Linked DNA regions of Homo sapiens. The protein of the gene in region 2 interacts with the protein of the main gene of each other region in a biochemical or structural test. Each region holds a gene or a part of one and is shown on either strand. Other genes may lie near its edges.

Evidence for each region. The genes of interacting proteins can lie anywhere in the genome.
Region 1: the proteins of TRIO (region 2) and FLNA form a complex in vitro, tested with the Homo sapiens proteins (one study listed by BioGRID).

The regions. Positions count from the first base shown.
Region 1 is NC_000023.11:154,357,635-154,364,634, forward strand, and holds part of FLNA (filamin-A), read right to left. Parts: coding exon 6,892-7,000; intron 6,739-6,891; coding exon 6,625-6,738; intron 6,532-6,624; coding exon 6,388-6,531; intron 5,151-6,387; coding exon 5,027-5,150; intron 4,945-5,026; coding exon 4,784-4,944; intron 4,699-4,783; coding exon 4,608-4,698; intron 4,515-4,607; coding exon 4,345-4,514; intron 4,154-4,344; coding exon 4,036-4,153; intron 3,937-4,035; coding exon 3,674-3,936; intron 2,954-3,673; coding exon 2,356-2,953; intron 2,272-2,355; coding exon 2,098-2,271; intron 2,013-2,097; coding exon 1,850-2,012; intron 1,773-1,849; coding exon 1,612-1,772; intron 1,521-1,611; coding exon 1,350-1,520; intron 935-1,349; coding exon 811-934; intron 722-810; coding exon 565-721; intron 1-564. UniProt on the Homo sapiens protein: Promotes orthogonal branching of actin filaments and links actin filaments to membrane glycoproteins. Anchors various transmembrane proteins to the actin cytoskeleton and serves as a scaffold for a wide range of cytoplasmic signaling proteins.
Region 2 is NC_000005.10:14,146,342-14,153,341, forward strand, and holds part of TRIO (triple functional domain protein), read left to right. Parts: intron 1-7,000. UniProt on the Homo sapiens protein: Guanine nucleotide exchange factor (GEF) for RHOA and RAC1 GTPases. Involved in coordinating actin remodeling, which is necessary for cell migration and growth. Plays a key role in the regulation of neurite outgrowth and lamellipodia formation.

The DNA.
Region 1 (7,000 bases), on a different chromosome or scaffold from region 2:
AGGCAGGGGAGGCAGTTGGCCCAAGCCCGAGTAGCCCCGGGCCTGCCTCAGGCGCTCCCAGAGTGCCCAGCGCTGCTGCTACAGGGACAGTCTCTGGGCCTCAGGCATCTTAACTGCTATGGCCCAAAAGGGCTGCCTGCACCTGGCAGAGTCCAGAATGGAGACTAAAACATCCCACACTTCCCACATGACAACAGGCGCGGCCAGCCAGCTTGGCACCCATCCTCAGCCCCAGGGCCTGGCCAGCACTAGGAGGAGCTCACCGGGGTGATCTCAAGCTTCTATCCTATACCTGCCCCATGAGAATATTACAGGTGGGGAAACTGAGGCACAGAAGGCTTTGGTGACGTGCTCAAAGTTAGCAGCAAGTGCACGTCTGGGGAAGCCTGTGCCTGTCACCACCATCCTAAGGTAGTCACAACCTTAGCAAACCAAAGACAGGGGCCCTGTCCTTCCCTGCCCTCCTTGGTGCAGCTCCGCAGGGAGATCAGACACCAGCCACCCGCAGCCCACACTCCAGCCGCCCAGGCCCCCCTGCCTCCCCTGCCTGTGCCCGGAGCTCACCGTGATCTGGACAGCCAGCAGGCCCTCCCCGGCGTCCTTTGCATCGATGGTGAACTCCACGGGCAGGCTGGCAGGCACGCCAGTGGTGTTGAGCCCGGGGCCACTGGCCTTCACCTTGCTGGCATCATGAGTAGGCAGCACCTTGACCTTGAAGGGGCTGTGAGGGATTGGTGTTGTGAGCAGTCAGACAGGTTCTCAGCATCCAGCCTGGGCCACTCCCCACAGGCAGCAGGCCCTGCCTCTTACCTCCGGGGTACCTCTTCATCTCCATACAGTACTGAGATGCTGTAGGGCCCTTCTCGGCTGGGCACATAATTGACGGTCTGGGTGCCATCAGCGTTGTCTACCACGTCCACTGGCTCCACCAGGCCTGGCCCCAGCCCCAGGGACAGAGCATCAGCTAGTCTCCTGGGCCTCCATTCCTACCCCACCACACTGGACGGCCAGGACCCAGCCCCAGGCCTAGACCTCGCTTTATCCTCATCCACCCGACCCTGGGAATGGCCTTGACCCCCTCTGGCACGAAAGACACCCATCTGGGTGCCAGCTGGGACCCTTGCCTGCCTGCCTTCCTGCCACATCTGCTCAGTGACCAGTCCCATCTGCTCTACCTCCTCCAAGTCCCCCACCTGGCTGCACTGTCACCTGAGGCTCTTCCAAAAACACCTACACACTTGCACCACCTCTGCACTCTGGTCCTCACTTTGGGCCTCCAGTTTCCTTTCCCGGCCCTCAAACAGGACACTGCCCTCCTGACCCCTGGCTCCAGGCATGCAAACACTCACCTTTGGGCCCTTGCACTTTGACCTGCAATGGGGCCACACCAGCCTTGCTTGTGTCCACCTGGAAGGACTGAGGGAGGTTGGCACGAACCATGCCTGGGCTCAGGCCGGGCCCAGAGCACTTGACCTTGGACGCATCTGTCACATCATGCACAGGGACCTTGAAAGGACTGCCTGAGGGTTGGGGCAAAGGGATGGCGGCTGTATGAGACAGGGTGGGGACGAGCAGACAGTCCCAGCCCTGCCCTGGCCGCCACCTCCTCACCTGGCACTTGATGGCCACCATAGGTGACGTTGAGGCTGTAGGTGCCAGCCTCATAAGGGATGTACTCGACCGAGCAGCTGCCGTCCTTGTTATCCATGCAGGACATCTTGGCCTCGGAGGGGCCCTCTACAGCCAGGCCCAGGCCGCCCGTGCCAGCTCCCCTGGTCCAAACAGACAGCCGGTCATTCCTGGGGTTCCCAGGCCCACCAGCCACACGGGCTCCTGGGGGCTCCCTTACCTGGTCTCCACAGTGAACTTGTTGGGCTTGTTGGTGGTGCCACTTTGGATGCCTGGCCCGTGGACACGCACCCGGGAGGGGTCGCAGCCCTCGGTCACGGGCACCTGGAAGGGGCTGCTGGGCACGGGACTGCCGTCATAGGTCACGTCCACGGAGTGCAGTCCTGGAGGAGTGCAGGCCAGGTCAGGAGGAGCCCGGGCCACCCCACCCACCCCGTCTGCCAGCCTGTGGGAGTCCCCAGCACGCACCCTCCTCGTAAGGCGTGTACTCCACTTTGTACATGCCATCGCCACGGTCCTGAACGTAGGTCTCCGTCAGGTTGCCTGAGGGGTTGGCCACACGGGCCTTGACGTGCGGCCCTCCGGTCTGTGTCAGAGCCCGGGCGTCCACACTGAACTCAGTGGTGGCCTCACGGAAGACACCTGCAAAGGCACAGAGAGGAGGCTTGGGGCTCGGGGGTTCTGGTCCCTGTCCCCCGTCACATACCCCACGGCAGGGCAACTCACCCTGGCCCTCAATACCAGGCCCATAGCACTGGACACCGGAAGTGTCCACCGCAGGTTCCACCTGCAGCTTGCTGGGGAAGTTGGGCACGGGCTGGCCGCCGTACTTGATGGTGACGGTGTAGGCCCCGGGGCAGAGGGGAATGTAGGTAATGGTGTGCGTGCCATCACCGTGGTCCTGGATGTACACCTCGGCCGGAAGCCCCGCCTCCGAGCAGATCTCAATGGTCAGCTCCGCGCTGCCCGCGCTCGAGCAGTCCACTTGGAATTGGCCCACCTCCCCAGCGGTGGCCCGCTCCAGCCCGGGGCCTGAGCACTTGACTTTGGATGCGTCAAAGCAGGGAACCACGTGGGCCTTGAATGGGGAGCCAGGGATGTGGGTGTCAGCGAAGAGGATGTTGATGTTGTAGTCCCCGGGCTCGGTGGGCACGTAGGACACGGAACATGTGCCATCCCCATTGTCCAAGCACTCGAGCTGCGCCTCACAGGGGCCCTCCACCGTCAGGCCCAGGCCACCTGTGCCGGCGCCCTTGGTGTCGATGGTGAAGCGGGCGGGGGAGCCCGCACTGCCTCCCTGCAGCCCCGGCCCAAACGCCTTCACCTGAGGGAAGAAGGGGTCAGGAGCCAAGGCCACACTATGCCCCGATCCCAGACCTCCTGCTTGACTTTCCACCTGCCTCCCCTTGCCCTGGCTTCCTGCCCTCACCAAACAGGGACACGGGCGGGCCCAGGCTGCCTGCCAGATGGGCCATCCATCAGTCATAAGGACAAAAAGGAGGGCAGGGCGCGGTCACTCACGCCTGTAATCTCAGCCCTTTGGGAGGCCAAGGTGGGTGGATCACCTGAGGTCAGGAGTTTGAGAACAGCCTGGCCAACATGGTGAAATCTCGTCTCTACTAAAATTACCAAAATTAGCTGGGCATGGTGGCGGGCACCTGTAATCCCAGCTACTTGGGAGGCTGAGGCAGGAGTATTGCTTGAAGCCAGGAGGCGGAGGGTGCCGTGAGCCAATATCGCGCCACTGCACTCCAGCCTGGGCGACAGAGTGAGACTCTTTCTCAAAAAAAAAAAAAAAAAAAAAAAAAAAAAAAAAGAAAGAAAAAAAAAAAAAAGAAATTCTTCAACCCTGATGACTTTTTGTGGGTTTCTATTTCCCTCCTCCCCTTTACTCTCACTTAAACAGGGTCAAGGTTGACAGTCTGTCTCAGGAAAAAAAAAAAAAAAAAAGGATTTAGGGCAGGTCTGGAGAAGATGGGGTACCTTTGGGGCCCTCAGAGAGCACAGTGGGTTCTACCCTTAGGGCCTCCCATACCCCAATTACCTTGCTAGGCTTGGTGGGGGCCACAGCTTCCAGAGGAAAGGGGCTGCCAGGCACGGGCACGCCGTCATAGGTCACCTCCACCTCATAGGGCCCTTCCTCACGGGGCAGGAAGCGCACCACACTGTTGTCAGCCCCCAGGCCTGGCTCCACCTTGCAGGGCACCGCTGCACCCGAGGGGCCCACAATCTTGGATGCCACTTTGCCTTGACCACCAGCACCCTTTGATTTGACTGTGAACTCCTGGTCTTTGCCAACGTCCACCTCTGTGGAAACGATGAAAGGAAGGAGAGAGACATGACACCCAGCTCAGCCAATCCCTGGATGTGACAAAGGCCTTTGCGACAAGGGCCCCAACTACTTACTCTCTCCCAGGCCAGACACCTTGATCTTGCTGAGGTCCAGGCTTGGAGATACTGCCACTGAGAAAGGGCTCTTAGGGATGGGATCCCCTCCATAAGTGACATTGACGCCTACTGGACCCTGGGAAGGGTGCAGAAGGGAAGGGGGTATTTAGAGACACCAGAATTGCTCCCCAACCCCCTCCTGGACCTCCATGCCTGTCCTCTCCCAGGTAAGGAATGAGAGTGGGCAGAAAGTCCCTCGGAGCTGTCCCCTAGGCTGCTGCATGAGGAGGCTGGGGACTCGGTGACTGTAGTGGAGGGTGTGGCTACCTGCTGGACAGGCGTGTACTTGACTGTGTAGGTGTTGTCATGGTGGTCGATGATGTCCACATCTCGCACTGCATCCCCCTTGGTGAGTCCTGAGAACTGGACGTCCAGCTTGCCTTTGCCAGCAGCTTTGGCATTTACTGTGAAGTGGGTGGGCTTGCCAAGCTCGACACCTGAGGAACACACAGGGACCATGTAGGGGCACCCTGCCCCAAGCCCTCCTACCCTTGATGCCCCGCAACCTGCCATGGGGTACCTGTCCTCACCAGTGCGACTGAGGCCAGGGCCCTCGGCCTTCACCTTACTGGCGTCATGAGAGGGCTCCACCTTGACTCGGATGGGGCTGGTGGGCGTGGCCTGCAGGCAGTGGGAGGAGAAGGCCTTAGAGGAGGGCAGACGTCATCCGCAATGACATCTTAGCGGCCAGGAGCGCAGCACCCACCTGGTCAGCAAAGAGGACCATAATGGTGTAGCTGCCAGCCCCCCGGGGCGTGTACTTGACCGTGAAGGTGTCATTGTCATTGCGGATGATGTCGAAGTCGATGTCAGCTTCGGCGGGGCCTACCACTCCAGGGGCACACTTGATGCCGATGCTGACGTCCCCTGCGGCGGGGAGAGGAGCGGAGGCTGAGACCTCGCAGGGACACCCCAGCCACCTGCCCTCCCACCCACAGCCAGGCCTTACCCTGGCCAGCCTCGGCGCAGTCCACAGTGAAGTAGGTGGGCTCGTGGGCCTTGAGCCCTGTCTTGGCTACTCCGGGGCCGTATACTTTGACCTTGTTGGGGTGGCTGCCAGCTCCCACATTCACCTGCAGGGCACAGGGGCAAGGGCAAGGGCATGAGCAGCCTGGAGGAGACTCAGAAGCTCCCTCAGCTACACTGGCAGGCACACAAAATGGTCCAGCTGCCTTGGGAAGAGTCTGGCAGTTCCTCAGTTGACCACAGAGGGACTGTGTGATGCTCCGGTTCACTCCGAGGCAACTACCCAAGAGAAATGAAAGCAAATGTCCACGCAAACACCTGGACTCACTGTTAACAGCACTGTTCATGATCACCAAAGGCAAGCTCATCCTCAATATCTGTTAGCAAGTGAACGGAAAAATGGAATGTGGTCTGGCCACACAATGGAGTATTATGCGGCCATAAAAATAAATGAAGCGGCCGGACGTGGTGGCTCATGCCTGTAATCCCAGCACTTTGGAAGGCCAAGGTGGGCGGACCACCTGGGGTCAGGCGGTTGAGACCAGTCTGACCAACATGGAGAAACCCCGTCTCTACTAAAAATACAAAATTAGCTGGGAATGGTGGCGTATGCCTGCAATCCCAGCTACTCAGGAGGCTGAGGCAGGAGAGAATTGCTTGAATCTGGCAGGCAGAGGTTGCAGTGAGCTGAGATCACGTCATTGCACTCCAGCCTGGCAATAAGAGCAAAACTCCGGCTCAAAAAAAAAAAACCAGGATGGGCGCGGTGGCTCATGCCTGTCATCCCAGCACTTTGGGAGGCCGAGGTGGGCAGATCACAAGGTCAGGAGATCGACACCATCCTGGCTAACACAGTGAAACCTTGTCTCTACTAAAAATACAAAAAATTAGCCGGGGGGGTGGCGGGCGCCTGTAGTCCCAGCTACCCGGGAGGCTGAGGCAAGACAATGGTGTGAACCTGGGAGAAAGAGCCTGCAGTGAGCCGAGATCGCGCCATTGCACTCCAGCCTGGGCGACAGTGTGAGACTCCATCTCAAATAAATAAATAAATAAACAAAATAATTATAAAGGAACAAAGTGCCAAGACATGCCAAACATGAACGAAAACACGGAAAACTTCGTGGTGAGCGAAAGAAGCCAGACACAAAAGGCCACATGGCACACAGTTCCATCTATAGAACATGTCCAGGATAGGCAAAGCCACAGCAGAAAGCAGGTTAGTGGTCACCAGGAGCTGTGGGACAGGGGAGTCAGGATGGTGTGCCACAACCACTTGAAATGGACGAATCGTGTGCTACGTGAATGCTATCGAGATGGACTAAAGGCCGGTGGAGGTTGGCTCACCCTGAAGGGGCTGTTGGGGATGCTGACGCCTCCCCAGGACACCATGGCTGTGTGCTTCACCGGCTTCCTGGGCACGTAGGAGCAGCTGTAAGTGCCATTGCCGTTGTCCTTGACCAACGCCTCCACAGGGCAGCCTTCATTGTCCTGTCAGGCAGATAGGAGCAGGTGGCCTGCTGGTCAGTGCCCAGGCCTGGGTGCCCACACCTGCCCTGCCCCCAACACCCGTGGGTGCTCTACCTGGACTTGGACCCGAAGTGGGGCCTTGCCACCGTGCTTGGCATCCACTGTGAACTCTGCTGGCTTGTTGACGGCCACACCTGTCTTCTCCAATCCAGGCCCACGTGCCTTCACCTAGCGGGAGACCACCCAGCTGTCAGGGGGCCAGGTCCAGGCTGCCAGAGCTACAACCCAGGCAGGGTGGCCAGGGACACAGAGTGCCATCCCCACCAGACCCCAAGCAGGAGCAGCAGGGCGAGACTTAGGCCATCACAGCCTGCTCTTTACCCTGTCTGGGTGGAAGTCCTGGGGCGCGTCACGGATGTCAGCCATGAAGGGGCTGAGGCGGATGTCTTCGCTGTTGCACAGCACGTGAACGGCATACTCGCCAGCCTCC
Region 2 (7,000 bases):
TTTGAGCCTGGTACTAAAAGTGCCAACCTGACTTAGACAAAGGCTTTCCATTGCTTGCCTTTCCTTTCTCAGCCCTGAAACTCTGTTTGCATGGCTGCCTGATTTTCTTTCTTTTTTTTAAATTCGTTCTTGTTGCCCGCATTCGGCTTTGTCTTTGTAGCCACAGATTGAAAACTAATACCAGTGGTTGGATGAAAGAAAGAGAAGACTTTAATAGAACTTTTAAACAATTAAGGGAAGTTCAGAAATAGAGTGAACAGTCCTGTGATTTCTCCATTACTGGAAGTGCTCACATAAAGGTGCTGTCACCTGGCAGGGTTTGGAGTTGGGCTCAGGGGACAGGACTGCTGCCCTGGAGAGGGGTCCGGGAGATGACCTTGGGGCTGTTCCCCTTTCCCTGTGGACTCTGGCTTTCTCTGAGTCCTCAGTGCCTAATCATTGTTCTCCGCTTTTCTTTGGGTAGTTCAGGGCTCCAGAGCCCTGGTGCCCTTCTCCTCTGCTGAGCGTCCACCCAGGGTTCACCTCACCCAAGGTCTCATTTCCTTTGCTGTCATTCCGTTCTCTGCTCAGGACCTTGGCACTCCCTGTTCATTTTGATGATCATTTTGATCACCTATTTATAGACCTGGCATGAAGCAGGCAGGCCAATTAGTGTTCAAGTGGATTGAGTTGTAATAATGTGAGTCAAGTCCTGGTGCTTGTGTGTTAAAGAGCAGTAAGAGATTTTCTGCAGGTGTTAGTGAATTTCAAACTTCACTTTTCTCCTTTGCACAGAGCTCAGCACAGTAAAACCAATTTCAATGCAAGAGCAAAAAGAAAAAAAAAGACACCACAAAAATGAGCTAGCCTTGTTTTAATTTTATTTTACAGATGAGGAATCAGCCTTAGGGAGGTTTCATGACTTGCCCCCCAGAGTGGAACTTGGGTAGAGTTAGAGTCAGGGCCCTGGTCCCTGGTGCTCTTTCCTGGTCGCTTCTCATAGCCAGGACGTTGCTTACATTAGTTCTCAACCCCACTGGGACCAATCATTTTTATTGCCAATCTATTTTGGGGCTCTGTTCTCGTGGCAATAAATCATTCTTTCAGAGCTCCCTATTTAACCTTGTGAGAGCGTGTGTGTGTGGTGGAGGTGCTTACATAAATGCAGTATTTTTAACCTGCCTGGCACGCTTTAGGTTGGCGTTAAATGAATATCTGGAGAATAAAGGTTTGTAGTTATTCTGAAGCATCACGTCCTGTCGTGCTTGGTTTCTTTCATTATTAAATCTTACTCGACTCCTCCTGCAGCCCCTGTCTTTCCAGGGAACAGGTGAAGAAAATCAAGTCTATTAGGGAGAAGCACACATACTTTTATATATTTTGATATGACGGTTTCCTTGTGGAGTATTGAGAGAAGCTTTTCTTCATATTTATACCTTGAATGCCACTTAGGTAGTTGGCCTGGGGCGGGCTGTGCTACTTCTGTTGGTATTGAGAAGCCTGGCAGCTTTGGTCCTTGTGAGCACCAATAATGATTGTATTACAAAGTGGGTCCTTGTTACCCTCAATATTTCAAAAATAGAAACTGAAGGAAATGTAATTTGATAGTGAATGTTGGTTTCTCCTTTTTAGGTGGCACAGTCAGTTTTAGAGGAAAGCAAGGAGATTTCTAAAATTCCTGTAAGTGACTTTCGAGGAATCAAAGAAGTGCAGTAAAGTCATCACTGAAAGAAGCTTTTCATTGAGACCTTGTAAACCGACATATTGATGTGGGATATTGTATTTTTTCCCTTTGCAATTTAACTATTTAAGATTCAAATGAAAATTTAAAGAAGCCATTTCCACCATTTAAATGATTAACCAGATTTAAATGAAGCCGGTGGTGGTGTTCAAAATGAAGCATGTGGTTTACATATGTTTCCTAAATGTACCCTAAAAATATGTAATTTCAGTGGCCTTTTTTGACCTTTTAAATGTTACGATAAAGTTGAGATTTGTTCTGAACTGCAGGTGAAAGATGTGTTTGAAGCTGTCATAATCTAAGTCAGCTGTATTCAATATTTACTTTGTTTATTTACTTGACTATCGAGAAAATAAAATTTTATCTCATAACCTTGGCAGAATTCCAGAGAAAAGTCTAATTCTTAATCAATAGCCACACTTTACTGCCTAGTAAACTCACTGATATTGATAGGGATGAGCTGTGTTTTACTACAAAAAGCAGTGATAACACCCTGCCCCCATTCCTCCTCAATTCTATAATGAATTGGCTTTTATTTCCTTAAGTGCATTGTCTTGACAAAATTTTAACAGCGCCACTGGCAGGAAATAGTAGCGACTCCCTGGACAGTGAAGACTTGGATTTGCGGGAGAATCCCAGTGTATTCTGGTGGAAAGTGCGTGCTCTGACCTCATCCTCCCATTTCTTCCAAGTACTCAGCTGCGTAGACTTGGCCAAACTGACAAGGGTGATGGTGTGGTTGGCCTGGTGGATGGAGATGCTGTCTTTTGAATCTTCTCAGCCTCATTTTAATTAATGGGCTGCAGGGACCAGGCTGGGTCCCCAGCTGGAGCAAGGGGTAAGCGGGTTCGATGTGCATCCACAGGGTTCTCTTCGTCCTATTCCAGTTCTGCTGACGCGCTGTTCAGTGGGCCACTGGGAGAGGGAATGAACAGGGAGACTTCCCAGTGACCCTTGCACTTGGGAATTCTGGCTGCTGTTACTCAGCGGGAGCTGTTCTGGGAATTCCTATTGCTGTGCCTCTGAACTGAGGGGAAGGGAGCATAGAGGAGTGGTCAGAGGCTTGCGGGGCCCTGCATGTGCTGCTGGCTTCCTGCTGGACCCCTGGTCTCCTCCCCCTGTGCCCGCAGAACAGGACTTCGCTCTCACTGCCAAGGTGCCCAGCTCCCTGCTAGTTCGTAAATCTCAAAGAGAGATACCTGGCTAGATTGTCCAGTGAGGACTCCCAGCTTTTTGATGTTACTGAGCCTTCTGTGCAGACAGTCTTGCTTTTGGGGAATCTTGCTCTCATGTTTAATGGTTAACAAGTGCATAAACACTCATTTTCGCTTCTCATTCACTCATGGAAACACTTAATTTGCTTACTGAATAGTTGTGTTGTTACCTTAATTTCCTCTTTTCTGTCCCCTCTCCACATAAGGAAGCCCCTTGAAACCCAAATTACTAATCACCTGCCCCCCGGGAAAGGTTGTATGTGGGGAAAGAGAGAGCAAACCAGAGTGAGGCTACGAGCGGGGGGCAGAGGGCATTGACCTCTGAGATTTCTCCCTGTGCCATTTGATGGCAGAGGGGCTGTGGAAATGTAAAACCTCGTTTTGGTGATGAACATACTTGAGTTTTAGATTACTGGCTCTTTTCATTAGCCACATGTCTACTCTTGTCTGATGGGGGAGGATTGTAGAGTAGTCTAGAGCTGGTGTTTTGGAGGCATCTTCCTATTTGGGCTTTGTCATCAATGAGTGCATTTTAGCAGTTACACTGACAGAGAAAGCTTTCATGAAAACTTACTCAACACAAAGACTGGATTCTAGGTCTAGGGTACTTTGACTTTGTGGTGTCCACGTGAGTTGATCAGGCTTGTTTTCTCACAGTCTGTAGCCCTGCTATGGACAGGGATGAATTGCAGGAGGTTTTTCTTGGGGAGGGATTTCAGTGAGTGGCAGCAGATTTGTCCTGGCCGCTCTGTGGACCCCTTTCCTGAAAGGAGGGGGAGCTGGTGCTGCTCCATTACTGGCTTACTGCAGGGAAGGCCAAGGGGCCCCTTGCTGTCTGTCTGTTGTTGTTAGCATTGAAACTGTGTAGGTGTGAATAGATCACAAACTATAGTACAGCCATTCCATTAATGTTGAGTGAGAGAAGACAGTCTCAAAATGCTGCATGCTGTATGAGTTCCTTTATATGACACTGGCAAAAAGACAGAACCGTAGTGACAGAAAACAGATGGGCATTGATTGCCAGGAGTTAGGGGGTGGGGGAGTATGGCTACAAGGGGGCAGGAGGCAGGTGAAGGATGGGGAACTGATTTGTATTCTGGTTGTGGCAGTTACATGTGTTAAAATTCACAGACCTTTACACACATGCACACAACACACACACACCGTTTAACTGTATATGTTATTTTAAAATGTGACATTAAAAAAAGGCCAATAATAAACTGGGAGAAAAACTATTACAAATCAAAGGATTATATATATGTAATTAGTAAAGGGCTCCCTCAAATCAATTAAGACAAGACATATCTAGAAAGAAAATAGGCAAACAATTAAAAGAAGTATGAATGGCCAAAAAATACATATTCAGCCTCACTCATAATCGAGGAAATGCAGATAGAACCAATGATACCAACAAAAGCCAAAGCTCATATAAGTAATTATTCTCTAAGTAAACTTGAACAAAATTGAGTTAATTTGGAAAGATTTTATATCGATTTGAAAGATAGTAATACTTGTGTTCATACTTTGCTATGTAGGACCTAGCTTCTTATAATTGCCCGGGGGTGATCTAGGGTAATGGTAAAGATAGATAGGGGGAAATAAAGATTCTTTCCTGGGATTCTGTAATACGTGTTAATTTGGAAATCCATCTGGTGTATAAGTCAAATCTGACTTACAATAATCTTTAGCTATAGACAGTTACCATTTTTGCTGCTTCAAAATTTCCCACTCCCATGATTTGTGCTGCTGTCCAGATCGAAGATGACAAGTGGCCCATGCAGGATGATCTTCAGCGCCTCACAGTTCCTGGTGCGAAAGAAGAAGTTTAGTTTCATCTGGAGGGCTTCGTTCCTACATGAGTAACTATAGGAGGTCATTTGCCCTCTGTTCTTAGGCATTCTTGTATATAATTGACAGCTACCTATTTCACGGTATTGACAATTAATAAATGGATTTATGAAGTGTTAGCCCCACCTACTTTTAAGACTCATAACCATAAAACTATGCATGAACTTGAGAAAAACACAGTTCAAATTTACACGTATAATCCTAAAATATTTTTAAATGGGGTTTGTTGGTGCCTGTTTTTTCATTGTGTGTGTGTGTGTGTTTGTGTGTGTGTGTGTGTGTGTGTATGTATGTATGTAGGTATATCTCTTGGAAAGTCATAAAATACCCCTCTTTGGATTTCTGTGGAATAGGTGGTTTCAGTGCAAGAATGAATGAATATATCGGAGACTAATACTTGAAATCTATTTTCAAAGAACTCGTGTTTCCTAGTATATATGAAGTGACATGTATAAATGACATGAATGCTTTCAGGCAAAATGTTTAGATTGTGATTTGAAAATGATGTGCATATGAGAAGTCGTTAAGATGTTGGCCAAAACAGTGTGTGTATAAATTGATCTCCATTGTTTATTCATTTTGCTTTGCTTCCTCTTGCATTGACCCATCCACTTTTTCAAGTTCACAATGATTCTTTTTTGCTGCTGCCATTGAAGGATGCCACTGATACCTGTGAGAGGGCACTCTTTGGCATTTGCATTCTGAAAGTTTTGCATTTTCTTATTTGTGTTTACTTTTTAAGTTCATCCTTGTTCTGCATGACAGATATGCCAGGGCCTGCAGGAATAGCATTAAAATTCTGTTGTTTTTTAGATAACTTTATTAGTTTAAGTTTTAAATGATAAGGACCGAGAGCTACAATTCCTCTGTTTTTTATTCTGAAGCTGAACCACACAAATATTGAAAAACAATGCTTTGACTGGAGTGTTATATATATTTCCACCTAACTAGCTTCACACAATAAAATCTCTAAAGTTTAAATTGCCCAATATTTTGACATCTAAATAACTGGAATAAATCCCTCATTAGTCTAATAGTAAACAAATAGATTTCTCATTTGTAGGTGGCTTTTTAAAAAATTTAAGTTCATGATTATGAGAAATTCTTCCCAGCGTTCACTGCCCTTTTCAGTACCAGAGTGATGAAAGCTGGCATGCAAGGGAACATTACTAGCTCGAAAAGCAAAACAAAACAAAACAAACCCAGATCGCATGGGGGCAGGATGTATTTCAGTTTTTTTGTTTGTTTGTTTGTTTGTTTGTTTTGAGATGGAGTCTCGCTCTGTCACCCAGGCTGGAGTGCAATGGCGCAATCTTGGCTCACTGCAACCTCTGCCTCCCGGGTTCAAGCAGTTCTCTGCCTTAGCCTCCCAAGTAGCTGGGATTACAGGCGCCCGCCACCATGCCCAGCTAATTTTTTTGTATTTCTAGTAGAGACGGGGTTTCACCATCTTGGCCAGGCTGGTCTTGAACTCCTGACCTCGTGATCCACCCATCTTGGGCTCCCAAAGTGCTGGGATTACAGGCGTGAGCCACTGCGTCCGTATTTCACGCTTTTTAAGAGTCACTTCACCTCCATCTAAATTTTGTTGCACTTACCCTAATATGTCTTGGGTCCAGGAGCCTGGAGAACGGGTGCTAATTTGATGGTTTCAGGCTGTACCTTTTACTCACGTGCCAATTCAGATCAGTGCATCCTGATGGGTTGCCCATAGGAGAGCAGCTCTTCATGGCAGGGGCTTCACTGTAGAGTCATTTAGTGCCAGAATGTTGTTAGTAGGTAAATTTTGTTAGTTGGTTGGTATACATATTACTTTTCCAATATTTAATTGCAGAATTTGCAGGATTCATTGTTAGGCCTTTCTCTCATACCTCATGGGTATTGTTTATTAGGGCCAGCCTCAACTCTGCTGGAGTCTGAATTCTCATAAGGTTCAGCCTGTTTGTAAGACGGAAGCTGTCCACTGAACCAAAGAGCTGGAAGCCTTCGAAAGGCATGCAAGATTGAGGTGGAATCACACAGATTTTCGGTGATAACCTGCAGAGTGGACGATGGAGGCTTTGGAAAGTAGGATGGCAGCCTTGCAACAGCCTGCCCCTGGCCATGCTTGCCACACCCTTGCTATCCTCTAAATCTTTAACAGCAGCTGCCAGGGAGCAGCAAGAGAGGCCAGGACCCCTGTCACGTGGGATGAGATAGCACCTTTGGAATTGTGCTC